Linked DNA regions of Homo sapiens. The protein of the gene in region 6 purifies or fractionates together with the protein of the main gene of each other region. This does not show direct contact. Each region holds a gene or a part of one and is shown on either strand. Other genes may lie near its edges.

Region 1 (3,500 bases), on a different chromosome or scaffold from region 6:
AAACACCCATAAAGTGCCAAGGTAGCCTTGTCAGTCAGTGTCGGTGTCACCTGTCATTCTTAGGCAGTTTATTTCTCCTGGGGACTGTGACCCCCTTAATTGGCAGGTGTTGGATGGAATGCTGGCTTCTCTGCTTAATTGCAGTGTGACCCTGGGCAAGCAATTCCTTTGCATGGCCTCAGTTTCCTTGTCTATAAAATGGGCCCATGATGCCTCCCTCGTAGGGTCTGCTGTGAGGCTGAACGAAGCAATGTTCTGCCAAGCTGGGCAGGCAGTCGCTTTCAGGAACTAGCAAATGATGCTGCTGTTGTTTTCACTATGATTACTGTTCTCCTGCGGGACTCATGCTGACTCCTCCGCTCTGAAAGGTCCCCATTGTCTTCCTGAAAGGCACACAAGGAACAATGTTGGCATTCTAAACTGCATGGCAGCAGAGGGCACGCAGCAGGCTGCTCCGGCATGAGGCACACAGGGCTTCCCTGTACCGTGCCTCAGTTTCCCCAACTGGAAGAGTGGGCATGAGAGGAAACCCACCTCAGGCATGCTTAGTGTTCAGCACAGTGCCTGGGGTATAGCAAGCGCCCAAAAAATGTGAGTGGCTGTGATTGGAATAATTATTATTAAGTAGCAGAGTCTCCCATAGGATTAGATACCCAAGTTGCTATGGCCTTTCCCCCAAACCCTAGGCAATCAGTGTTGGCATTTTAAATGGAAGGCACAGGGCTGGCATTGGTGGCTCATGCCTGTAATCCCAGCACTTTGGGAGGCCAAGGCAGGCGGATCACTTGAGGTCAGGAGTTCGAGACCAGCCTGGCCAACATGGTGAAGCCCTGTCTCTACTAAAAATACAAAAAAATTAGCCAGGCGTGGTGGCGCATGCTTGTAATCCCAGCTACTCAGGAGGCTGAGGCATGAGAATCGCTTGAAACTGGGAGGCGGAGGTTGCAGTGAGCTGAGATCGCACGATTGCACTCCAGCCAGGGCGACAGAGCAAGACTCTGTCTCAAAAAAAAAAAAAGGAAGACAATGCCCAAATACCCACTGGGCCACAATTTCCTCTTCTGTAACAGAGCTTCCCCGCTTTGGGTGTTGTGACGCTTCAATGAGTGAAGACTTGGGAAGCTTTTTAGGATAGGACCTGGCTCTCAGGAATGCTCAGTGAAGCTTCACTTTGATTCTTATTATCTTTTATTTTTATTAATTTTTTTTTTTTGAGACAAGAATCTCTCTCTGCGCCCAGGCTGGAGTACAGTGGTGTGATCTTGGCTCACTGCAACCTCCGCCTCCCAGGTTCAAGTGATTCTTATGTCTCAGCCTCCCGAGTAGCTATGGCTACAGATGTGGGCCACGACACCCAGCTAATTTTGTATATTTTGTAGAGCTGGTGTTTGGCCATGTTGGCCAGGCTAGTCTCGAACTCCTGGACTCAAGCAATCCACCCGCCTCAGCTTCCCAAAGTGCTGGGATTACAAACATGAGCCACCATACCAGGCCTATTATTTTTAAATATTTTATTTTATTTTATAGAGACAAGGTCTTGCTATATTGCTCAGGCTGGTCTCCAACTTCTGGGCTCAACAGTCCTCCGACTTTGGCCTCCCAAAGTCCTGGGATTATAGGCATGAGCAACTGCACCTGGCCGTCTTTGTTTATTATTATTTTGTTTTCTTTTTTCTTTTTTTTTGCCATCTAGACTCGGCTTGGCAGATTTATTTATTGTTATTTTAACTTATATTTTTTATTTTTTTGAGACAGGCTCTCACTGTGTCACCCAGACTGGAGTGTAGTGGCGCCATATCGGCTCACTGCAACCTCCGCCTCCCAGGCTCCAGCAGTTCTCGTGCCTCAGTCTCCCGAGTAGCTGGAATTACAGGTGCCTGCCACCACACACGGCTAATTGTTGTATTTTTAGTAGAGAAGGGGTTTCACCATGTTGGCCAGGCTGGTCTCGAACTCCTGAACTCAGGTGATCTGCTCACCTAGGCCCCCCAAAGTGCTGGGATTACAAGCATGAGCTATGCACCTGGCCTTTTTAACTTTTTGTTAAGGAAATTTTAAAGCACTCACCGAGAGTTGAGAAAATAGCACAACCACCCCTGTGTAACCATCACCAGCTTCTGCAAAAATTTTCTGCTGATCTGATCTTTTTTTTTTGGCCATTACCTACTGTGCACATATATTTTTTCTTTTTTGCCAAGGTATTTTAAAGCAAATTCCAGATATCATATCATTTCCATTGTATTATTATTGTTATTAATGGTGGTGTTATTTCTGGGATCCAGAATTTGTTTCAGCACCTCCAGAGTCTGTCCTGTTCTATGAAGAAAGTGGCATTAGGCCCATTTCATAGGTTGGGAAACTGAGGCAGCAGGGAGTGGGCTTTGATCAGGTGGTCCTTTTTCTGTGATCCCCTTTTTGGGACTGTGGTGAATTCCCTGTCTTGGCCACACCAAGCCTCAAACCCTGTGGGTTGTTTCTGATTACACAGGTTTGGGGGTCACACCTGGGTGCATGCAGTGTGGGGTACAGGTTCTGTTACTCTGTGCAGAAATCGTCCTCATAAAGGAAGAGTTGAAGTGGGGCTGGCAGCAGGGGATGGACCCCTAGGATGACCCTGGAGGTGATGGGCAACTGGGTCAGCTGTGTGGGTTAAAGTCCTGTTTCTGCTCCTTCTAACCCTGTGACTTGGTGGCAAGCTATTTCCCTCCTTTAGTCCAGGTTAGAGAACTGGAAGTACAGGAGAGATAATAAATACTTATTTGGATGACCTTATTGTTAAATAAGGTCTAGCGTGGAAAAGATGTTTTGCAAGTGCCTGGCTCAGAGTAAACGGTCACTATTGTTAGTGTTGTTATTGCTTCTGTGTATACTCTTGAGGTTGGGGACAAAAATGCTGTTTCTAGGATTGCAGAGGAAGGGTTGATGCCCCTTGACCCCCCAGCCCGGCCCCGCTACCTTCATTCCCTTGCCATGCCCACCCTGTCCCTCTGCACTCTCCCTTTGAAGTGCTTGCCTGTTTAGGGGGCTGCCAACTTCAGCGTGGCCCCTCTCAGCCTCTTATGTCCTCTGTGTCCCAGCCTGGTAACCTTGGGAACGGAGTGAGCGGGAATATCTGTCTGAGGCTGTGAGACCCTTGCTAAAGACCCTTGGGGTCCTTGAGGGAGCGCCTGGTGGCCTCTGCTGCCTGGAGGCAGAGGATGGCCCAGTGTCCAGGGACACCTGCAGGTGAAGCTCCCCGGAGCCACCTTTCCAGAGGCTGGATGCCAACTCTCGTCCACCGTGTGAGGCTGGGCGGGCAGATGTCCACAGCGCCTGCCTCACAGGGTGGCTGTGACAGTTAGCTGGACTATAACCTCCATCACCTGGCACGCATAGTGTCTCATTGACCTCAGACACTTGGCGCCCGGCCTGGGTGCGGGAGTTCTCCCTGGGAGAAGTCTGAGCTCACAGCTTAGCAAGCTCTTGCTGTACTGCGGAATTTCTCTCCCTAGAACGTGCGC
Region 2 (3,500 bases), on a different chromosome or scaffold from region 6:
CTCCATTGACCTGTCAAATTGCACTTCTTCACCCTGCAGACACCCACAGGTCCTGGTGGAAATTTCCTTTTCTTGGCCAGGTGTAGACAGCATGTGTGTGCAGACCTCCAGAGCTGCTGGTTGACCTTGATCTGGGAGAGTGCTGAGGGCCACTTCACACTCACTCCCTTCTGTGCGGTGTGATCCGAGGCGGGTGTGGGGTGGGGGTAGTCGGGGAAGGGGCACATGCAGCAGGAGCACGGGAAACAGGAGAGGGATCCCACCTCTGCCGAAGCTCTTGGCACGGAGGGGTCGTGGTTGGGGAGCACAGAGGCGCTGGTCACCTGCGCCCGAGGGGGACGGGGTGCGTTCAGCCTGGTGGGCCGGGAAAGGGGTTCCCTGCTGTCCCAGGAGGAGGTCCAGCTTTTCACACCCAGGCACGTGTGGATGAACTTGATACTCAGTAGGGTTGTGAACGCTCACCCAGATGCTCACTCTGCCATCTCCATCTGGGCCTGGTGCTCTGCGGTCACCTGGCTGTGACGATGGCTGCTGATTACGAACATTGACCAGGTGGCCATGATGTGTGGCGGCAAATCTCGGGTGCCCTCTCATCCCTGGCCTGGCTTGTGGAGGTCGCTCTCCGTAAATTAACCGTTTTTCCCTGAAAACTTCCTGTTGCCTGCAGCCGCCCACGCAGAACATGAACCTGGGCCCTGGAGCCCTGACTCAGAGCGGCTCCAGCCAGGGCCTGCACTCTCAGGGCAGCCTGAGTGACGCCATCAGCACGGGCCTGCCACCCTCCTCCCTCCTGCAGGGCCAGATTGGCAACGGTGAGTGCGGCGGGGGAGGAGGACGTTCCTGGCTACGAGGCCACCAAGGCAGCCCTTGGGCAGCCGGCTGCCATGGTGGGGCACCCCACCCCTCACAGGGCTGGGCATGGGACCCACTCCTCCTGGGGTAGCCACAGGTCGGCTGCCATCGCCCAGGCTCAGGGCCGCAGCGAGCGTGCCGTGCGGCTGGGCTGAGCCCCTGCTCCAGTTGTCCACTCTCTCTGACACTGTCACGTTCCATCAAATTCAAATGCAAGTTGCGGGGTTCCAGGTGGATTGTGTAATAGGAATGGAATGCTCCTGTCTTTGGATTGAGAAGCATGGATAACGTTTGGAGACCATTAACAGTAATATAACAGGCCGGGTGTGGTGGCTCAGATCTCTAATCCCAACCCTTTGTGAGGCCTAAACCAGCAGACTACTTGAGGCCAGGAGTTTGAGACCAGCCTGGGCAATATGGCAAAGCCCCATCTTTACAAAAAATAAAAATATTAGCCGGGTGTGATGGTGCACACTTGTAGTCCAAACTGTTAAATACTCGGGAGACTGAGGAGAGAGGGTCACTTGAGCTTGGGAGGGTGAGGCTGAAGTGAGCCTTGTTCATGCCACTGCCCTGCAGCCTGGGTGACAGAGCCAGACCCTGTCTCAGAAAATAATAACAAAATAACAACAAATAAACGATTCATCCTGTGCTTTGCTAGCATGTACGCTGCTTTGTTTTCTTTTCTTTTTTTTTTGAGACAGAGTCTCGCTCTAGTCGGCCAGGCTGGAGTGCAATGGGCATGATCTTGGCCCACTGCAACCTCCGCCTCCCGGGTTAAAGCAGTTCTCCGGCCTCAGCCTCCCAAGTAGCTGGGATTATAGGCACGTGCCACCACACCTGGCTAATTTTTTTGTATTTTTAGTAGAGACGGGGTTTCACCATGTTGTCCAGGCTGGTTTCGAACTCTTGACTTCAGGTGATCCACCCACCTCGGCCTCCCAAAGTGCTGGGATTACAGGCATGAGCCACTGCTCCCGGCCACTTATTTATTAGTCACTTAATCATTAATAGTGCTGTTGATAGCAACTCTTCCCAAAGTCACTTGAAGGGAAATTGGGGTGTCTTCACCTTCAGAAGTGGTGACCTGGCTCCCCAGTGCCTGACACCACTCCCTGCTCCCCATGCCAGGGCCGAGCCACGTGTCCATGCAGCAGACGGCGCCTAACACGCTGCCCACCACCTCCATGAGCATCTCTGGGCCCGGCTACAGCCACGCGGGACCCGCCTCGCAGGGCGTCCCCATGCAGGGGCAAGGCACCATCGGCAACTACGTGTCTCGGACCAACATCAACATGCAGTCCAACCCAGGTACCTACTCTGCCTCTGCAACCCCGGGGGGCCTGGGCCTGCCTCCAAGACCCTTGACACATGCACGTTGGACATGTGGTCCCGGGGAAGCTGCCCTCCTGCTGGGTGCTGGAGGGGAGGGGCCCGTGAATCGGGGCTGGCCGCTGCCTCTGAGAGCTTCCGGAGGGATGGGCGCCAGTGGGTGCACGATCAACTCCTCCTGTCCCCCAGCTTTGCGAGGGGCTGGGGTGTTTCCCATGGAGTCTCAGGGAATGCCCCAGGGAGTGGGGGCCACTGGCCCTGGGTCTGGACAGACAGCACTGGGCTCTCAGAGGTGGGGTAGAGTCGGTGCAAGCAGCGGGTCTGAGCTTGCAGGGCGTCAGTGCAGGCCACGTAGGGGAGGCGTGCCTTGCGGTGGAGGACGCTGTCCTCGTGGGGAGCACAGGAAAATAACGAGGAACCCGCCCGGGCGCAGGAGGTAGTTGGGTGTGGGAGGGAGGGCGGGAGGCTTCCCGGGGTGATGTGGGGCCTCTGTCCTGTCGTTCAGTCTCCATGATGCAGCAGCAGGCGGCCACGTCGCACTACAGCTCGGCGCAGGGCGGCAGCCAGCACTACCAGGGCCAGTCGTCCATCGCCATGATGGGGCAGGGCAGCCAGGGGAGCAGCATGATGGGGCAGCGGCCCATGGCGCCCTACCGGCCCTCCCAGCAAGGTAACGCCCGGCCGGGCCAGGTCGCGGGCACAGCTGACCGCCGCGGGTCGTGAAGTGCCAGGCTGTGTGTGCTTCTCTTCGGGGAGCCTGGGGGAGTGAGGCGGGGAGCCTGGGGGAGTGAGGCTTGGCGCCTTGGTGTTAACATTGAGTGTGGACCCTGGGGGTGAGGGCCAGGGTGTGGCCCGTGGAGGGTCTGCTGTCCCCGAGGAGTCAGTGTTGGGGGCAGGGGCGGCAGTTGTCATTAAGAGTGTCACAGGCCGGGCTCATGCCTGTAGTCCGAGCACTTTGGGAGGCCGAGGTGGGCGGATCACCTGAGGCCAGGTGCTCAAGACCAGCCTGGCCAACATGGTGAAACTCTGTACTAAAAATACAAAACATAAGTTGGATACGATGACAGCGTGGGGTGTTCTCCTCGGGTGGGTGAGGCCATTCAGCAAGGCCTTGGCTTCCCCAGTGAGCGAGCAGGTCCTCTGAGGGAGGAGGGCGCGGCCCGCACTGGCGCTGAATGTGGTTCCCCCGCAGGCTCTTCCCAGCAGTACCTGGGCCAGGAGGAGTACTATGGCGAGCAGTACAGCCACAGCCAGGGCGCCGCGGAGCCCATGGGCCAGCAGTACTACCCCGACGGTGAGCACTGGCGGCGGCCTGA
Region 3 (3,500 bases), on a different chromosome or scaffold from region 6:
TCTTGGCCTCCCAAAGTGCTGGGATTACAGGCGTGAACCAGTGCGCCCGGCTGGGGTGGTCGTTTTGAATGGATGAGGATGACGGATCAGGAATAGAGCCAGCCTGGGCCCATTTGTCCTGTCACTGTCTGTGTTACATGAGGTTCCTTCTTCTCTCACTTTTTCCCCACTCTGCTACTGAAACAGGAATCTTTCTCAAATGAGTGTTTTGTATTTCTTGCCCATTCGTATAGAGAAGGGTTGCCTGGCGCAATTTGATCAGGGCAGGAGAGGGATACTATGGGATGTTCTAGTCGAAGTGTATGTATCTGCCTGTTGCTTATGATTCACAGTATTCCTGCTGGAAGGGTTCATTTTTCTGAGGCTTGAGGAGAAGTTGCTTGTCCAGGATTCTGTTCTTCCTTGGGTCCTTGGATTCTCACGCTGCTGTCGTTTTTCCTGTTCAGTCCTAATCCAGACCTCTGTGGTCTGTCACATAGCACCCTCCTCCCTCTCTGTGAGTCTCCTGCTTGGCTCTGTCATATTCCTCTTTTTTTCCTTTTCTAGAAAGAAAAGTCAAAATCGAACAGTTCAGCAGCCCGAGAACCTAATGGCTTTCCTTCTGATGCCTCAGCCAATTCCTCTCTCCTTCTTGAATTCCAGGGTGAGTTGCATCTCTGTGTCTTCCTTGCAGGAGAATGAAAACTTGGATGAATGCATTAATAAGAAGAATTGGCCAGGTGCAGTGACTCACACCTGTAACCTCAGCACTTTGGGAGTCTGAGGCGGGCAGATCACCTGAGGTCAGGAGTTCAAGACGAGCCTGGCCAATATGGTGAAACCCAGTCTCTACTAAAAATACAAAAAGTTAGCTGAGCGTGGTGGCGCGTGCCTGTAATCCCAGCTACTCGGGGGTCTGAGACAGGAGAATCGCTTAAACCCAGGAGGTGGAGGTTGCGGTGAGCCGAGATTGCGCCACTGCACTCCAGCCTGGGCTGCAGAGTGAGACTCCGTCTCAAAAAAAAAAAAAAAGAATTCTGTGTATCAATTCAGTGCCTGCTGTTTCGCTGGTATTTTGCGAGGCACTTGACCTAAATCTTTTCATTTAAACTTCACGATAACTCTGCAAGATAGGTAATGGTATTCTCATTTTCCAGTTAAGGAAACTGAGGCTCAGAGAGGTTAAGTTACGTGTCTAAAGTTACATAACTTGTAAGTGACAGACTCCATGTCAGGTCCTGGTTGTCCGAATCAGAAGCTTTTTTTTAGATTGTACTTCATTTTTTATTTTTTATTTTTTGTAGAGACAGAGTCTGGCTATGTTGTCCAGGCTGGTTGTGAACTCCTGGCCTCAAGCAGTCCCCCAGCCTTGACCTCCCAAGGTACAAGCATGAGCCACTGCACCTGGCCTAGACTGTATGTTTTATCATAGTCGCTTAGAGTAGGCTACCCAAAGCCGAAGCTTCTGCTTACCCACTGTTAGGACATGTTCTGCCTCCTAAACCAATCCCGCCGGATCATCACCGTAGTCATGATACTGCCTTTTACACCTACCTGCTAGGTACTGTCTACGAAGCACTTTTACTTTACTTTCTCATTTTTACCCATGTATCAGCCTGTGATATAAACCAGGCAGTTATTATCATCCCTATTTAAGGAAACTGATGCTCAGGGAGGAACAGTGTTTTGTCTAAGCTCAAAAGTGACAGTTTTATTCATTTGGTGACAAAATGCTACTTCCATTTTAGTGTGGGTATTAAAGGTCTTTATAGGAGTCAAGACTAGCATGAGTTTATGACTTTCTCTTCAAAACCAGATTGGAGCTAACCCAGCGTGTAGTTATTCCTTCCCCACCTCTTTCCCAGGCCCCACCAAGGTCAACCATGTGCTGTTGGAAAGGGAACACCAACGTGTGTTCAGTAGTCAGAAGGCTCTGGGAGACATATGAGGCTCCATTTCCTCAGTCTGGCCACCATCTCCTCCTTTTCATTTAGTAAACACTTAATGAACTCCCACTGTATGCAGGTACCGTGCGTTGCACTGGGGAGTCAAGGACAAGTGAGCCACAGAGCCTGTCCACAGAGGCTCATGGGAGGAAGCACGTGTGCGAAATGATAAATGCAGGCGTGCACAGGCTATCACAGGAGAGTAAGAGAGGGTGGGCATTTCCACCTATGCGAGCCAGGGAGGTAGGGCTCCGCGGAAGAAGTGATGTCGGGGCTGTGTTGGGAGGTCTGAGGCTTTCCAGGACAAGAGAAGGCAGCCTAGCCAAGGAACAGCTGGGCAGAAGCACCCATGCATGACGAAGCTCTTGGGTTAGGGTCCAGTCTGCCTGGAGCTGAGGATGCTTGTAGGAGAACAGTAGGCACTGAGGCCAGAGATCAGAAAGGACTTCCTATGTTGCGATAAGGCCAGCTCCTGCCTCTCCTAAGAAGTACTGGGTATGGCTGGGCGTGGTGGCTCATGCCTGTAATCCCAGCACTTTGGGAGGCTGAGGCAGGTGGATTACCTGAGGTCAGGAGTTCGAGACCAGCCTGACCAACATGGTGAAACCCCGTCTCTAATAAAAATACAAAATTACCCAGGCGTGGTGGCGCAAGCCTGTAATCCCAGCTACTCAAGAGGCTGAGGCAGGAGAATCAGTTGAACCCAGGAGGCAGAGGTTGTGGTGAGCTGAGATAGCACCATTGCACTCCAGCCTGGGCAACAAGAGCGAAACTCGGTCTCAAAAAAAAAAAAAAAAAAAGTACTGGGTATGACATTTCTCCCTTAGGCAGCAGTGGAGCGTCGAAGGGTTTAGAAAGGTCTCTCTGGCAGTGGTTTGCAGTTCAGTTTAAGGTACGTGAGACTGGAGGCAGGGCAGTGAGGTATGTGGCTGTTGCAGGAGGCCAGGCTGGAGATGATGAGGCTTGAACTGAAGCAGTAGGAGAGGAAGGAATGAGCACAAATGATACCAGAGCAGGAGGGGGAAACACTTTGGTGACTGGCTACTGTAGGTGCAGCGGAGGAATGCATTGGTGACTCTTACTTTTTTTCTTTTTTTTTAATTTTAATTTTTATTTTTTGAGACGGAGTCTCGCCATGTCACCCAGGCTACAGTGCAATGGCACGATCTCAGCTCACTGCAACCTCCACCTCCCGGGTTCAAGCGATTTTCCTGCCTCAGCCTCCCAAGTAACTGGGATTACAGGCGCGTGCTATCATGCCCGGCTAATTTTTGTATTTTCAGTAGAGACGGGGTTTCACCATGTTGGCCAGGCTGGTCTCAAACTTCTGACCTCAAGTGATCCGCCCACCTTGGCCTCCCAAAGTGCTGGGATTACAGGCGTGAGCCACTGCACTCGGCCTGGTAACTCTTTTTTTTTTTTTTTTTTTTTTTTTTGAGACAGAGTCTCGCTCTGTTGCTCAGGCTGGAGTGCAATGGCGCGATCTCGGCTCACTGCAAGCTCTGCCTTCTAGGTTCATGCCATTCTTCTGCCTCAGCCTCCTGAGTAGCTGGAACTACAGGTGCCCACCACCAC
Region 4 (3,500 bases), on a different chromosome or scaffold from region 6:
GATGGAGACAAGGAAACCAATCGTTTCAATGTCATGCACCAAGGGCTTCAAGGAAAGCAAGCCCAGAATGGTATCAGCATAGGTAATAGCCTGGAGAGGTGGGTAAGGCTTCCCCAAGGTGGAAATACCCAGTTCAAGGGATAGGCCAGGCAGAGGGAAAAACACAGGCAAAGGCACCAAGATGGGAAAAGTTCAGGTAGTAAGATGTGGCCAGAAGACAGAGTAAGTGAGGGAGACTGATGGGAAGAGAGTGACCTTGTCTGAAAGGGTTCCCATCCTGCAGGTGAAAAGCCCAGAAGGTTGCTAAGCAGAGGGATGAGGAATGTGTTTCAGAAATCCCTCATGAGAAGAGAGGATGGTTACAGCCATTTCAAGAGAGAGAGTTATGGCCACCCTCCTTTAAGATCTTAGAGGATGTAAGGTACTTGATTAGGTTTAAGCAGTCTTCATTCATTTACTCTCAAATGTCTTTGAGTGCCTACTATTTGTATTAGGCACTGTCCTAGGCTCCAAGGACAAGGTAGGGAACAATACATAGGTCCTGCCCTTGGGGAGATTCTAGTCATAACCATTCTGCCCCCGTGCATTTACTCCCAGCACACATTATTGGAGCTTTATTTGGGTGTTTCTAAAACTCTTGAGCTTACCTTGGCAGGTAATTGTGCCATCACATGCACTTTTATTTATTTATTTATTTATTTATTTATTTATTTATTTATTTTTGAGACAGGGTCTCTGTCACCCGGGCTATAGTGCAGTGGTATGATCACGGCTCACTGAAGGCTTGACCTGCCAGGCTCAGTTGATCCTCCTGCCCCAGCCTCCCTAGTAGCTGGGACTACAGGTGCACACTAGCACACCAGACTAATTTTTATTTTTATTTTTAGTAAAGATGGGATCTCACTATGTTGCCCAGGCTGGGCTGAAACTCCTGGGCTCAAACGATCCATCCACCCTGGCCTCCCAAAGTGCTGAGGATAGTGCCTGAGCCACCGCGCCTGGCCCGTTGTATGCACTTTTATTTAAATTTAACCCTAAAAAGATAAGTTTAGTGTTTTTGTTTGTTTTGAGATGGAGTTTCACTCTTGTTGCCCAGACTGGAGTGCAATATCATGATCTCGGCTCACCACAACCTCAGCCTCCCAGGTTCAAGTGATTCCCCTGCCTCAGCCTCCCGAGTAGCTGGGATTACAGGCATGCGCCACCATGCCCGGCTAATTTTGTATTTTTAGTAGAAATGGGGTTTCTCCATGTTAGGCTGGTCTCAAACTCCCTACCTCAGGTGAACCACCCGCCTGATGCCTTGGCCTCCCAAAGTGCTGGGATTACAGGTGTGAGCCACTGCGCCCGGCCAAGTTTAGTGTTTTTGTTTGGTTGGTTGGTTGGTTTTTTTTTTGAGGTGGAGTCTTGCTCTGTTGCCCAGGCTGGAGTACAGTGGCACGATCTCAGCTCACTGCAACCTCCGCCTCCAGGGTTCAAGCAATTCTCCTGCCTCAGCCTCCCAAGTAGCTGGGATTACAGACGCCTGCCACCGTGCCGGGCTGATTTTTGTACTTTTAGTAGAGACAGGGTTTCACCATCTTGGCTAGGCTGGTCTCGAACTCCTGACCTTGTGATCCACCCGCCTCGGCCTCCCAGAGTGCTGGGATTCCAGGCGTGAGCCACGACACCTGGCCAAGTTTAGTGTTCTTTTTTTTTTTTTTTTTTTTTTTTTTTGAGATGGAGTTTCACTCTTTCGCCCAGGCCAGACTGCAGTGGTTCTATCTCGGCTCACTGCAAGCTCTGCCTCCCGGGTTCATGCCATTCTCCTGCCTCAGCCTCCTGAGTAGCTGAGATTACAGGCACCCGCCACCGCGCCCGGCTAATTTTTTTGTATTTTTAGTAGAGACGGAGTTTCACCGTGTTAGCCAAGATGGTCTCGATCTCCTGACCTCGTGATCCACCCACCTCAGCCTCCCAAAGTGCTGGGATTATAGACGTGAGCCACCGTGCCCGGCCAAGTTTAGTGTTCTTAAGAGAGGATACTATAATGTTGTTCCTATGAACTGTTGTTTTCATGACAGATGAACTGAAGGCAGGAAGAGCAAATAAAGGACAAAATAAGGGACTATTATATCCCAGATAGGAAATGAAGGCCCTTGCCAAAATCAATCACCCTTCAGTAAGAGGGTATTCAAACTTATCCTCAGCCCAGAGAACAGAAAAGGCCTAGGTGCTCTGCTCTTAAAATCCTACCTTGGCAGCCAGGCGCGGTGGCTGACACCCGTAATCCCAGCACTTTGGGAAGCCGAGGTGAGTGGATCACGAGATCAGGAGTTCAAGACCAGCCTGACCAACATGGTGAAACCCCATCTCTACTAAAAATACAAAAATTAGCCGGGCGTAGTGGCATGTGCCTGTAATCTCAGCTACTCAGGAGGCTGAGGCAGGAGAATCGCTTGAACCTGGGAGGCGGAGGTTGCAGTGAGCCGAGATCGCACCACTGCACTCCAGCCTGGGCGACAGAGTGAGACTCCGTCTCAAACAAACAAACAAAAATCCTATCCTGATTCCTAAAGATTCGCTTCAAGTCCCAGGAAAATGGGTGTTAAGTGTCTCCACCCCCAGGATCTTCACTGGTGGAATCTCCTTACCTGACTAGGAGTGAGACCAGCAATTTCAGGTGTCCCTGTCCCTGGCGCATAGGCAGGATCCAGAGCGTCAATATCAAAGCTGATATAAATGGGTTTGCCTCCCATCTGCTGCCTGACTTCCCCCATCAGAGGAACCAGCGACTTCATCCAGCAGTCTTCAGCCAGGACTACCCGGAAGCCCTGCAGAGACAGGGACTGAGGTTTCTGTCTGGCAGCATTTACAGGGCATTTCCTGTTTGCCAGCCCCATGCTCAGCTCTGTGTGCACATGACACTTGACCCTCCATCTCCATGAAGAGGGAACTATCCTATTTTACAGGTGAGGAAGGGAGGGACAATGAGTGGTAAGGAAGCAGGGTCAAAGCTGACTGATGGAGTTGGAATCAGAGAGAAGCTTTGCTAAAGCAAGAGTGGGAAACAGCAGCTCACGCTAGCACCTTTTGAATTGCTCTGTCCAGAAGACTGGCCTTGGCACGCTCTAAAAGCAAGGGATTTGGGTCTGTTCCATTGGGGTCTTGTCATACACGTCTATCTGAGAGCCATTCTGCCTAGAGGGTACGAGGACCAGAACTAAGAAGGTGGCAACTCATCTTGGGTCCGGACTTCCTCCCCTCTTTTTTTTTTCTTTTGAGATGGAGTCTCACTTTGTCACCTAGGCTAGAGTGCAGTGGCGCGATCTCAGCTCACTGCAACCTCCACCTCCCACGTTCAAGCAATTCTCCTGCCTCAGTCTCCCGAGTAGCTGGGATTACAGGTGCGCACCGCCACACCTGGCTAATTTTTGTATTTTTAGGAGAGACGGGGTTTCACCATGTTGGCCAGGCTGGTCTCGAACTCCTGACCTCAGGTGATCCACCCACCTTAGCCT
Region 5 (3,500 bases), on a different chromosome or scaffold from region 6:
TGGTCAGGGAAGCCTTCCCAGGAAAGCTGAGGTCTGAAGAGGGAATGAAGAGAGAGTGAGCAGTGCTCTGGGGCAAACTGGTTCAATGCCCTGTGCTGGGGGACGGGCCCCTGGGACCTGGAAAGCAGCGTGGCTCCTGTGCAGTCTGAGATGGGCCTGGGTACAGTGAGGAGAGGTGGCCGAGTGTTTGCAGGCAGCACCTGGGTGAGGTGCTGGCTTTGAGGGGACCGCCTGCTTCAGGCAGGGAAGGTGCTGGTGGAGGGCAGCGGGAGGATGGCTTTGGGTTTTGGGTGGTGATGGGATGTTCAATGTCAGAGAACCCTGGGATCGGTGGCTGAGGGAGGGTCGTGTGTTTCCTGTGGACGTTTGAACTGGTGGGACTGGGCCATCTCGCAGAGCCCTCTCAGAAGAGGAAGGAGGGGCTGCTGGGGTAACCCTGTGGCCTGAGAGGTGGGATGCCCGGAGGGGCCGGACAAGCAGATCCCAGGGGAAAGCAGGGGCGTGGGCAACAATGGGAGGAGGGCAGGTGGCTAGGGGGCCCAGCCTCAGGAGGCTGAGGCCCACAGTGAGCGGAACCTTTACGTTCTCCAGAAAATTGGGGAGGAGTTCCTGACTGACCTGAGCCAGCTGAAGAAGCTGCTGCCGCTGGTCAGTGACGAGGTGTTCATCAGGGACGTGGCCAAGGTCAAACAGGTAGGCATGGCCCTGGCCCCAGCCCCGACCCCAGCCCTCCCACAACCAGGCAGGTAGGCCCTGGCCCTAGCCCTCCTACAGGCCCAGCACAGGTCCTGGGGTACCCACTGGGGCTTTAGTGGGGACTCAGAACAGGACTGAGGGTGAGGCTGTTAGGGTTGCCTGAGGTCTCTCCACCCCACTCAGCCTTTCAGATGAGGGCCCCGAGGAGGACAGGTCACATGGCAGATAGGTGAGTGCAGACCCCAGGCCAGCCCTGCCCGTGCCTCGACCCTCTGCCACAGGTCAGTTCTGTATGGAAGCCTCTAGAAGCCGATTCCAGCGTGGTACCCTCTTTGCCCCTGGAGAGCTGTGCAGGTGCACGAGCTGTCTGCACCGGCAGCAGCCTCTCGGCTAGACCAGGGCCAGTCACGGCAGCCTTCAAACCTCAGCGGGCTGGAGGCCCATCTACACAGCCTGTCGAGCTTGGCCTCCTCATAGAGGCCAGAACTAGTTCTCCTTGTAGTCCTTTCAGCCGTCCCGCTCCCGCGCTGCTCCGCCGCCTGCACGCCTGGCTCTGCAGTGTCTTCTGCTTGGCTCCAGGCGTGCTCCTGGGCCGGCTCCTCACTTATCCCCTACTCTTGGTGTGGACCCACCTTCAGCATCCCCCTCTCCCCTTTTCCCATGAGAAGACCCCTGGTGCAATCTCTGCCCCTCAGCTCCAGCCTGTATACCCCTGCCCCCTCCCTGCGGCACTCTTCACAGGGCACTTGAAGCAGGAAGCCGCAGGGTCAGTGGATGGAGTCCTGGTGAAGTCTCCAGCCATCTTTCCCTTTCACCCTCCCAGGAGAACAAGCTCAAGTTCTCGGCCTTCCTGGAGAAGGAGTACAAGGTGAAGATCAACCCCTCCTCCATGTTCGATGTGCATGTGAAGAGGATCCACGAGTACAAGCGGCAGCTGCTCAACTGCCTGCACGTCGTCACCCTGTACAATCGTGAGTGCCGGCATCACCTGCATGACCGCGCTGTGGGGCCCAAGGCTTGCCCTTGCCCGCCAGCTGTGCACAGACCCTGGGCCTCTGTCATGGTGGGGGCTGTGTGTGTATAGGCGTGTGCATGTGTGATGTGGCACGTTTATTTTAAGCAAAAGCCATGTTTTTCTGTGTGCCCCATGCCAGGCCTCACGTGAGCAGGTGAACAGTTAGACACCCGAAAGGCCCAGGCTGGAGTGCAGTGGTGCCATCACGGCTCACTGCAGTCTTGACCTCCAAGGGCCCAGGAAATCCTCCCACCTCAGTCCCCCAAGTAGCTGGGACTACAGGCGCACGCCACTATGCCCTTGTATTTTTTGTAGAGACAGGGTTTCACTATGTTGCCAAGGCTGGTCTCGAACTCCTGGCCTCAAGTGATCTACCCACTTCTGCCTCCCAAAAGGCTGGGGTTATAGGCATGAGCCACTGTACCGGGCCTTCAGTTTTTATTTTAAATTTAGTTATTATCTTTGTGAGACTAATCTTATTTAGAAAGATTATGCTTATTAGAGGCATTTAAAGTATACTTACAAAAATTAAGATAGTATGTGTTAAATTTACACATGCATCTTATATGTCTAAGGACATTTAATTATGAGACAAACATGAAACAGAGACCCCCAAAGGTCAATGTGAATATTTGCTAGGTTTAATAGATAATGAAACCTTAAGGAAAAACTAGGTTTCTAAAATTTTGTAATTTAATAAAGTAGGTATTTTAAAAACCAAAGGAACCACACATCCTCCTTTCCGATACAAAGCTCCTCCCGGGAATAGATCTCCTATTCCCAATGAGTAAGCCTCGATGGGGTGGAGGATCTGGGTGCGTTTGAGACACACATGGTAGGACAGAGGCTAGAGGCCACCCCCGCTGAGGACCCCTCTGCCGTGTGGGCACCACGGGAGGTGCTTCCCGGGGCTGTGGCTTCCCGGCTCCGAGATGGTGCACGGGAACTTTGCATCATCTTTCCTTGCCCCATTTTCCTCCTGCAGTTGTGATGCTCTGTGTTCCCCTGGTGGTGACCCGGAGTCCTCCGCTTGCACAACGCTTGGTCCTATTGATGAGCGGCAGTGAGACTCGCGGGTCACCCCCTCCCTTCCTCCCGCTCCACCACCCCCACAGTCAGTTGCTGCATCGTCTTTTAGTGTTGGCCTTCAGGCTTTCCTCCTCCCGCTCCGCCACCCCCAGTCGTCAGTTGTTGCATCGTCTTCTATTGTTGGCCTTCAGGCTTTCCAGATGCTCCACTTCTGCTTGGTTGGTTCATTCGTTTTGAACGACACGCTGTGATTTCCAGCCGTTCACAGGAGGCAGCCAACAGGCTGGTGCTCGCTCCCACTGGTCTTCCCCCTTGCTCCATGTCTGTGTGTGCACGCATAAATGTATATGTGTGCATGCCTGTAAACATGTGTGCTTGTGTCTGTGCATGTACCTGTGGTGGACCTGCGTCTCCTTCCCCCACTGTCAGAGCTCACAGCATCAATACTTTGCCCTTCCTCCTGTCCCCAGCTGTATCAGTTTGAGTCTGGTGGTGAGTATGTTCACTGCTTCTCACGGTCCTTCTGCAAAGTGCTGCCCAGCCCTGCTGGCCACTTTGTGTCTAGTTCATGACTGGCTCATGGGAACAACCTTCCCGAGTTCTTGCTTGTTCAAAACGGCCTGGACCCTTCACCATGAAGGTCGGTTTGGCTGAAGATGCCAGTCTTAACTCCACTTCCTTCCCCCAGTGCTTTTTAGGGCCCTACCGGGCACTGTCTGGAGGGTGGGTGTGTGTGCAGAAGTCTGGCGATGTCTGAGTT
Region 6 (3,500 bases):
CAATCTGATCGTATCACTCCCCTGTTGATAACTCTTCAAAAGCTTTCCTGTTGCCCCACTGACGGGTTTTAGCATGACAAAAAAAGCCCTCATTGCTTGCTCCCTGGGGATTCCAACAGCTATATCTAATTTTATCCAGGATTTCTGCACTGGTGGGGGCCAAGGTGAGATTTGATATAAAACTTTATTTTGAAAAAGGCTCATAAGCCATCCAAACAGTTTCAACAATCACCAAATAGAACAGAGCTGAAACTAGGGGGTGGGGCCAGATCACAAACAGTTTCCGAGCAGCTCCTGTATGCAAGGAAGTCTCTACAGTGGATGCAGTGATGAGGAAAACAAGATTTTGCCCCCAAGGGCTTTATAGTCCATAAAGGGGATAAAGGGTGGAAAAAAGAGGCATGTTCCAAATGAACTATTCAAGAAAACAAACATGTAGATGTCTTTTTTTTTTTTTTTTTGAGACAGAGTCTCACTCAGTTGCCCAGGCTGGAGTGCAGTGGTGCGATCTTGGCTCACTGCAACCTCCACCTCCCGGGTTCAAGAGATTCTCCTGCCTCAGCCTCCTGAGTAGCTGGGATTACAGGTGCACGCCACCATGCCTGGCTAATTTTTGTATTGTTAGTAGAGATGGGGTTTCACCATGTTGGCCAAGCTGGTCTCGAACTCCAGACCTCAAGTGAACCACGCGCCTTGGCCTCCCTAAGTGCTGGGATTACAGGCATGCGCCACAGCGCCCAGCCAAGAAAACAAACGTGATTAGATGTCTACCACATGCCAGGCATGTAACGTAAAGGAAAATGCATTTAAATGTCACAGAAAGGGAAAGTACCACAGGGCTGCACGAGGGAAGAGACAACTTCCAGTTGAGGTAGATTAGCAAAGACTTTGTGGAAAAGAAGTGCTTGAAGAAGACGTACTTGAAGGGCAGGCAGGGAATGGACATGCAGAGAAAGGGTCAGGGCCTGGGAGAGCCTCCAGGCAGAAGTAGCCATAGGTGCAAAGATATGGCCTGTGTCCTTTGAAGTTAACCACAACCCTGGGGTGCCCTGCTCTCACCCGGGCTCCAGCCTCCAGACAGTGAGGAAGCTTCTGGAAGCCGAGGGATGGCGCTACTTGCATTTTTCTACATTCTAATGAAACCCTGAAGAGGTTCTGAGGTTCATCCCAGTACAGCTGTTGGCCATTTCACAGATGGAGAGAGTGGAGTCCAGAAGAATTCAATTAAGATCTTCAAATATATAAAGTCATGGAGAATAGAGACATTTTCTGCCCTTTGGAAGCAGAGCTATTGGCTTTGGAAGTTCAGAAGAATAAGGGATCCCTTTAAATTTGGATGTGAGGTGTTAGTCACAGAAGGCGTCTTGGAGGAGGTACGAGTTGAGCAGAACCCTAAAATGGGGGTAGGATTTATATAGGCTGGGAGGTAGAGGGGGAAACTCCAGTTGTGGGAAAAGCACAGGCGTGTTCAGGGGACAGTGAGGACTCCAAGTGGGGCCTGGAAAGGGGATCCAGTGAGACCGACGTGGAAATAAGGCTGATGGGTAAGCGGGGGCCAGACATTGGCCCCGAATAATGGAATCTCTCCTCCTCTGTGCTTACTCTGTGTTCCACCAGGACCAGCTACTCTTCTGCGATGACTGTGACCGAGGCTATCACATGTACTGTTTAAATCCCCCGGTGGCTGAGCCCCCAGAAGGTAATGATGATGAAGTCAACAATAAGAACAGCAACAGATACTACTACTACTAGCACTTACTGAGCTCTCACTATGGTACAGGCCTTATGCTAATGGGTTTACATGTTCATGTCTTGTCTCATTTAATCATCACAACCCCACAAGGTAGGTACGACGACTGCCATTTTACAGATGAGGAAACTGAGGCACAGTCCAAGCAGCTGAAATTTCAACTTGAGGGCCAAGGAAGTTTTTCCCAGACATGCAGTGGAGATGACCGGGAGGTGTGAGCTTCCAGGAGAACTGGCGCAGGCCCGGCGACACTAGTTTGGAGGCATGACGCTAGTAGTGAGGGTCTTGATAAGAGTTGAGCCCATCTCCTCTGAGCACCTGCTTTCTGCTGAGCCACAGACTCTGGCACGTTTTCAGGCCTGGGACTTGGTTTCTGCATTGCCAAAGTTCAAAGGAAACAGGATTTACAAGAAGTTAGGGCCAGTGGGGTGGGGCTCCAGAGTTAGCAGAGGGGCTGCTACTAAAGCCGTCTCATTTCTTGCAGGAAGCTGGAGCTGCCACTTATGCTGGGAACTGCTCAAAGAGAAAGCCTCAGCCTTTGGCTGCCAGGCCTAGGGCCCCAGGTCACAGAATGTGACTCGCTGCTGGAGATCCTAAAGCAGAGCCCAGTTCAAACCAGAACGCGCCCTCCTCCCACATATCCAGCCAGACCAACTGCAAGGAAAAGAAATAGTCCCAGAGGGGCAGGGACACATGGAACGAAGAGGGTGAGGCATCTCCTGACCTCCCCCGATATGTACGGAACTTCAGCCAGCACCTCCTTGTCTCTACCGGAAGGAAGTTGCACTTTGGGAGAACACCTCCGGCCCCAGCCCTGTGGAACCCCTCTCACTTTTACCCTAGCACCGAGGCCCTCTCATTGGTTCCCATTTTAAGGGAAGCCATTTCCTGACCACTCATCCATTACTTGTGTGTAGTGTGGTGTTTTTTTATCTATTGTGTTCCAAGAAATCTTGGCACAGCCCCCGTGCCCCCAGCTTAGGGTCTGCATCCTGAAATTCTCACCTGAGGAACAAAGGGCTGTGGAGAAGTTGTCGTTTATGGCAAGCCTCACTGGAAACTTCTAGACTTGGGGTCTTGAAACCCTTTCTTGTTCCTTGGTGTCTGTGGAGACAAAGAGTTGCCTTCTAGAACCCCAGCAGTGGCATCCACAGCCAGCCTGGTCTTGAGCCACTGCTTAAAGTTACTAGATGGGGGCGGGGAGGGAGGGAGACGCGCAGAGACATGGGAGGAAACATTGTGGAAATGGTGCCAAGGCCCCGCCATAGCCAGTCAGTACTTGTTATCCATCGGGAGAGACTTTGCAAGAGGCCAGGCTGGTTCCTTGACCTTCAGAGCTGGGGCATCCTTTAGGTGAGACCAGTCATGGCCTATGGACAGAGGAAGACGGTCAAGCCTCTGCCTCTCAGCCCACCTGGTTCTGGAGACCTGGTTCAGCTTCTCCTGGTGGGACTGAAGAACCAGGAAGGGGAGCGAAGGCTGCCCAATCATGTGTCCGAATGCTGGATACAGGGGGCTGCAGCTTTGAGAAACCTTCAGTATTGATGCGACGCTCTGAATTCCTTTTTCCAAGTAATTTCTTCCTTCCACGTAGTGTTTGTTCGCTATTGTCTACTGAGACCTGACTGGGAATTTTAGGATGGGGGAGAGAAGATTGTTATCTAAACAAATAATTAGGGTGACATGGTCATTATTCACGACCAGGGTGGCCACATTTTAGAACTCTCAGTGCGGGGGCTGCTCTTGTCTC
Region 7 (3,500 bases), on a different chromosome or scaffold from region 6:
GGAGAATGGCGTGAACCCAGGAGGTGGAGCTTGCAGTGAGCCTAGATCGCGCCACTGCACTCCAGCCTTGGTGACAGAGCGACACTCCGTTTCACAAAAAAAAAAAAAAAAAAAAAGTCCGGGCACAGTGGCTCACGCCTGTAATCCCAGCACTTTGGGAGGCCAAGGCGGGCGGATCACGAGGTCAGGAGATCGAGACCATCCTGGCTAACACGGTGAAACCCCATCTCTACTAAACATACAAAAAATTAGCTGGGCGTGGCGGCGGGCGCCTGTAGTCCCAGCTACTTGGGAGGCTGAGGCAGGAGAATGGCGTGAACCTGAGAGGTGGAGCTTGCAGTGAGCCCAGATGGTGCCACTGCACTCCAGCCTGGGTGACAGAGTGAGACTCCGTCTCAAAAAAAAAAAAAAAAACAAAACTAACGTTAGGCAAATTGAACCAAATCATGAACACCAAAAGCACTGTACTTCAGGTGAGTAGATTTGGGCCAATACCAAATCATTACTTGTTGCTCAGTAAACAAAACCAAAGGTGATTAACCAATTAATCAATTTAAAATAGCACCAAACTTTTCTAAAATGGCCTAAACAGACAAAACTTTGACAGCACTTGTGTCTCAACCAAAGCTGAATTCCATTCATGTTACATTTGGTTGAAGTCCCCCTCCCCTTATCATCACATAAAGCCTGAAGCGCCCATGGAATTGCATATCCTTGGTCACCTCCCTCTGCTTCTCTAGTCCTCTCTCCCCTTCCTAAGTCATCAGCTCTCACCTTGAAGCCTGTGGGACACCAGTCTACAAACTGGATGGTCCTCTTGGTCTTGATGGCAGCAATAGCGACATTCACATCCTTGGGCACCACGTCGCCCCGGTAGAGCATGCAGCAGGCCATGTACTTGCCATGTCTCGGGTCGCACTTCACCATCTGGCTGTTGGGCTCAAAGCAGGAGCTGGTTATCTCGGCCACAGAGAGCTGTTCGTGATAGGCTTTCTCGGCAGAGATGATGGGCGCGTAGGTGACCAGCGGGAAGTGGATGCGGGGGTAGGGCACCAGGTTGGTCTGGAACTCAGTGAGGTCCACATTGAGGGCCCCGTCAAAGCGGAGAGAAGCAGTGATTGAGGACACAATCTGACTGATGAGGCGGTTGAGGTTGGTATAGGTAGGGCGCTCAATGTCAAGGTTCCTGCGGCAGATGTCATAGATGGCTTCGTTGTCCACCATGAAAGCACAATCTGAATGTTCCAGTGTGGTGTGGGTGGTCAGGATGGAGTTGTAGGGCTCCACCACTGCAGTAGAGACCTGGGGGGCTGGGTAGATGGCAAACTCCAGCTTGGATTTCTTGCCATAATCCAGGGAGAGGCGTTCCATCAGCAGAGAAGTGAAGCCGGAGCCAGTGCCCCCACCAAAACTGTGGAAAATCAGGAAGCCCTGCAGGCCAGAGCAAGCATCTGTCTAGGGAGAGCAGGACATGAGAAGAAATCATGAAGACAAGTTTCCGAGAACACCCCACAGTAAAAAAGCCAGACCGCCCACTCTGTCTGCCTCATATTTTTTTGTGGATGAAATCAAAACAGCTTTGAAGAAGTAAGGAAACAAAAGGAGTTGTATTGATCTTTGGAGGAGTGGCTAAAATATGGGATGGGGCCAGGCACAGTGACTCAATGCCTGTAATCCCAGCAGTTTGGGAAGCTGAGGCAGGAGGATCCATTGAGGCCAGGAGTTCACAACCAGCATGGGCAACATAGTGAGACCTCGCATCTACAAAAAATTTTAAAAGTTAACTGGGCGTGGTGATGCACACCTGTAGTCCCAGTTACTTGGGATGCTGAGGTGGGAGGATCACTTGAGCCCAGGAGCTCATGGCTGCAGAAATCTATGATCACACCACTGCACTCTGGCTTGGATGACAGAGCAAGTCTCTGTCTCTATTTTTTTTAATAGGATGACAAGCTGCAGGGGCACACGCCTCTAGGTACATGAAGGTTTCAGCCCAGTAACTTGGTTGAACAGGGAATGAGAGTTTCAGAACCACAGTGGATGGTGACTTTGCCCTTTGAGGGCCCCAACTCCTTGCCCACTTTCCCTGCTCTTGTCATTTGATTTTGTGGGAACTGCTGCCGACACACTTCAACCCAACCTTGGAAGGTGACTCAGGGCACCAATTTCAGAAAGGTACATGGAGCCAGAAAGCCTGAGTTCTAATATCAACTTTGCCATTTCTTGGTTGTAAGAACTTGAGCAAGTTACTGAACCTCTCCAAACTTCTGTTCCTTTTTTTTTTTTTTTTTTTTTGAGACAGAGTCTCGCTCTGTCGCCAGGCTGGAGTGCAGTGGTGCAATCTTGGTTCACTGCAAACTCCGCCTTCTGGGTTCAAGCAATTCTCCTGCCACAGCCTCCTGAGTAGCTGGGACTACAGGCGCATGCTACCATGCCCAGCTAATTTTTTGTATTTTTAGTAAAGATGGGGTTTTAACATGTTGGCCAGGATGATCTCAATCTCTTGACCCCGTGATCCACCCCCCTCAGCCTCCCAAAGTGCTGGGATTACAGGCATGCGCCACCATGCCTGGCCACTTCTGTTCCTTCTTAGTGAAAATGGGGACAATAGAAAATCCTCATAAGGTTATTGTGACAATTAAATAAAATAGCATAACATGCTGAGCAAGGGCCTGATACGTTGTAAGCACGGATGTCAGCTCTCACCAGAGAATTCATAGAATCACAGGATTTTCCCACTGGGTGTGATTTGAACTTTTGGGGACCACAGACAGCTTTGAGGCCAATGACCCTGACAAGCCCTCCTCTAAACAGAAAAAGTGAATATATGCAAAAGTTTGGCACCCTTACCTCCCAGGGAAAGAACATGTGATCAGGTCCAAGCTTTTCCATTATACAGATAAGCAAATGGAAGCTTAAATAAATAAAGTGACACAACCTACAACTCAAGAGCTTTGTAGTCCAACTGAGTTCAAACCCCAGCTCTGCCACTTTTTAGCTGTGTGACCCAGGCTAAGATATTGAACCACCCTGGCCCTCAATTTCTTCATCTGTAAAGCACAGGAAGGACACCTCCTAAGTCTAATTATTAAGGATTAAATGAAGGAATGTGCTTAACATCTGTAATGGCACTTGTAAGTGCCCAAATGTATCAACAATCTCTTCCTCTCCTCTTCCAAGTTAAATGCTTTGTTAACCTGTGTTTCCGACCAGCAGAGACCTCATCCTGCCTTATACCCGGAACCTTCCCCAGATACTAACAGAGAGTATCAATGAGTATGAGTAGGGCCTCAGCCTGGAACACAGTCTATGATGCCAACACAGAGGAAGGGGCATCACCCCTGTGCATGCTTCTTACAGAATTTAAGCAGAAATTCCCAAACCTTAGGAGCTCCATCCTATAGCCAGGGGTCAGATGCCTCTCCCTAGCCTGATCAAAGAGGCATGGGGCCAAGCCTGTCCACTCCAGCCTGACCCACCCGTCCCCTGCCCTCCTGATC

What was found.
Region 1: the proteins of DPF3 (region 6) and BICRA purify together in Homo sapiens (affinity purification with mass spectrometry, with the first as the bait; one large-scale study listed by BioGRID). This does not show direct contact.
Region 2: the proteins of DPF3 (region 6) and SS18L1 purify together in Homo sapiens (affinity purification with mass spectrometry; 4 studies listed by BioGRID and IntAct, with this or other methods). This does not show direct contact.
Region 3: the proteins of DPF3 (region 6) and BCL7B purify together in Homo sapiens (affinity purification with mass spectrometry; 3 studies listed by BioGRID and IntAct, with this or other methods). This does not show direct contact.
Region 4: the proteins of DPF3 (region 6) and AGMAT purify together in Homo sapiens (affinity purification with mass spectrometry; 3 studies listed by BioGRID and IntAct, with this or other methods). This does not show direct contact.
Region 5: the proteins of DPF3 (region 6) and PYGB purify together in Homo sapiens (affinity purification with mass spectrometry, with the first as the bait; one study listed by BioGRID). This does not show direct contact.
Region 7: the proteins of DPF3 (region 6) and TUBA8 purify together in Homo sapiens (affinity purification with mass spectrometry, with the first as the bait; one study listed by BioGRID). This does not show direct contact.

What each region holds. Positions count from the first base shown.
Region 1 is NC_000019.10:47,615,634-47,619,133, forward strand, and holds part of BICRA (BRD4-interacting chromatin-remodeling complex-associated protein), read left to right. Parts: intron 1-3,500. UniProt on the Homo sapiens protein: Component of SWI/SNF chromatin remodeling subcomplex GBAF that carries out key enzymatic activities, changing chromatin structure by altering DNA-histone contacts within a nucleosome in an ATP-dependent manner.
Region 2 is NC_000020.11:62,160,769-62,164,268, forward strand, and holds part of SS18L1 (calcium-responsive transactivator), read left to right. Parts: exon of another isoform or gene 1-667; coding exon 668-812; intron 813-1,983; coding exon 1,984-2,163; intron 2,164-2,689; coding exon 2,690-2,854; intron 2,855-3,376; coding exon 3,377-3,478; intron 3,479-3,500. UniProt on the Homo sapiens protein: Transcriptional activator which is required for calcium-dependent dendritic growth and branching in cortical neurons. Recruits CREB-binding protein (CREBBP) to nuclear bodies.
Region 3 is NC_000007.14:73,540,691-73,544,190, reverse strand, and holds part of BCL7B (B-cell CLL/lymphoma 7 protein family member B), read left to right. Parts: intron 1-546; coding exon 547-643; intron 644-3,500. UniProt on the Homo sapiens protein: Positive regulator of apoptosis. Plays a role in the Wnt signaling pathway, negatively regulating the expression of Wnt signaling components CTNNB1 and HMGA1.
Region 4 is NC_000001.11:15,575,052-15,578,551, forward strand, and holds part of AGMAT (guanidino acid hydrolase, mitochondrial precursor), read right to left. Parts: intron 2,814-3,500; coding exon 2,634-2,813; intron 1-2,633. UniProt on the Homo sapiens protein: Hydrolyzes linear guanidino acids to form urea and the corresponding amines. Displays specificity for substrates having a negatively charged head group and short chains including taurocyamine, guanidino propanoic and butanoic acids.
Region 5 is NC_000020.11:25,282,585-25,286,084, forward strand, and holds part of PYGB (glycogen phosphorylase, brain form), read left to right. Parts: intron 1-591; coding exon 592-693; intron 694-1,519; coding exon 1,520-1,667; intron 1,668-3,500. UniProt on the Homo sapiens protein: Glycogen phosphorylase that regulates glycogen mobilization. Phosphorylase is an important allosteric enzyme in carbohydrate metabolism. Enzymes from different sources differ in their regulatory mechanisms and in their natural substrates.
Region 6 is NC_000014.9:72,618,102-72,621,601, reverse strand, and holds part of DPF3 (zinc finger protein DPF3), read left to right. Parts: intron 1-1,617; coding exon 1,618-1,699; intron 1,700-2,234; coding exon 2,235-2,305; 3' UTR 2,306-3,500. UniProt on the Homo sapiens protein: Belongs to the neuron-specific chromatin remodeling complex (nBAF complex).
Region 7 is NC_000022.11:18,124,309-18,127,808, reverse strand, and holds part of TUBA8 (tubulin alpha-8 chain), read right to left. Parts: intron 1,456-3,500; coding exon 775-1,455; intron 1-774.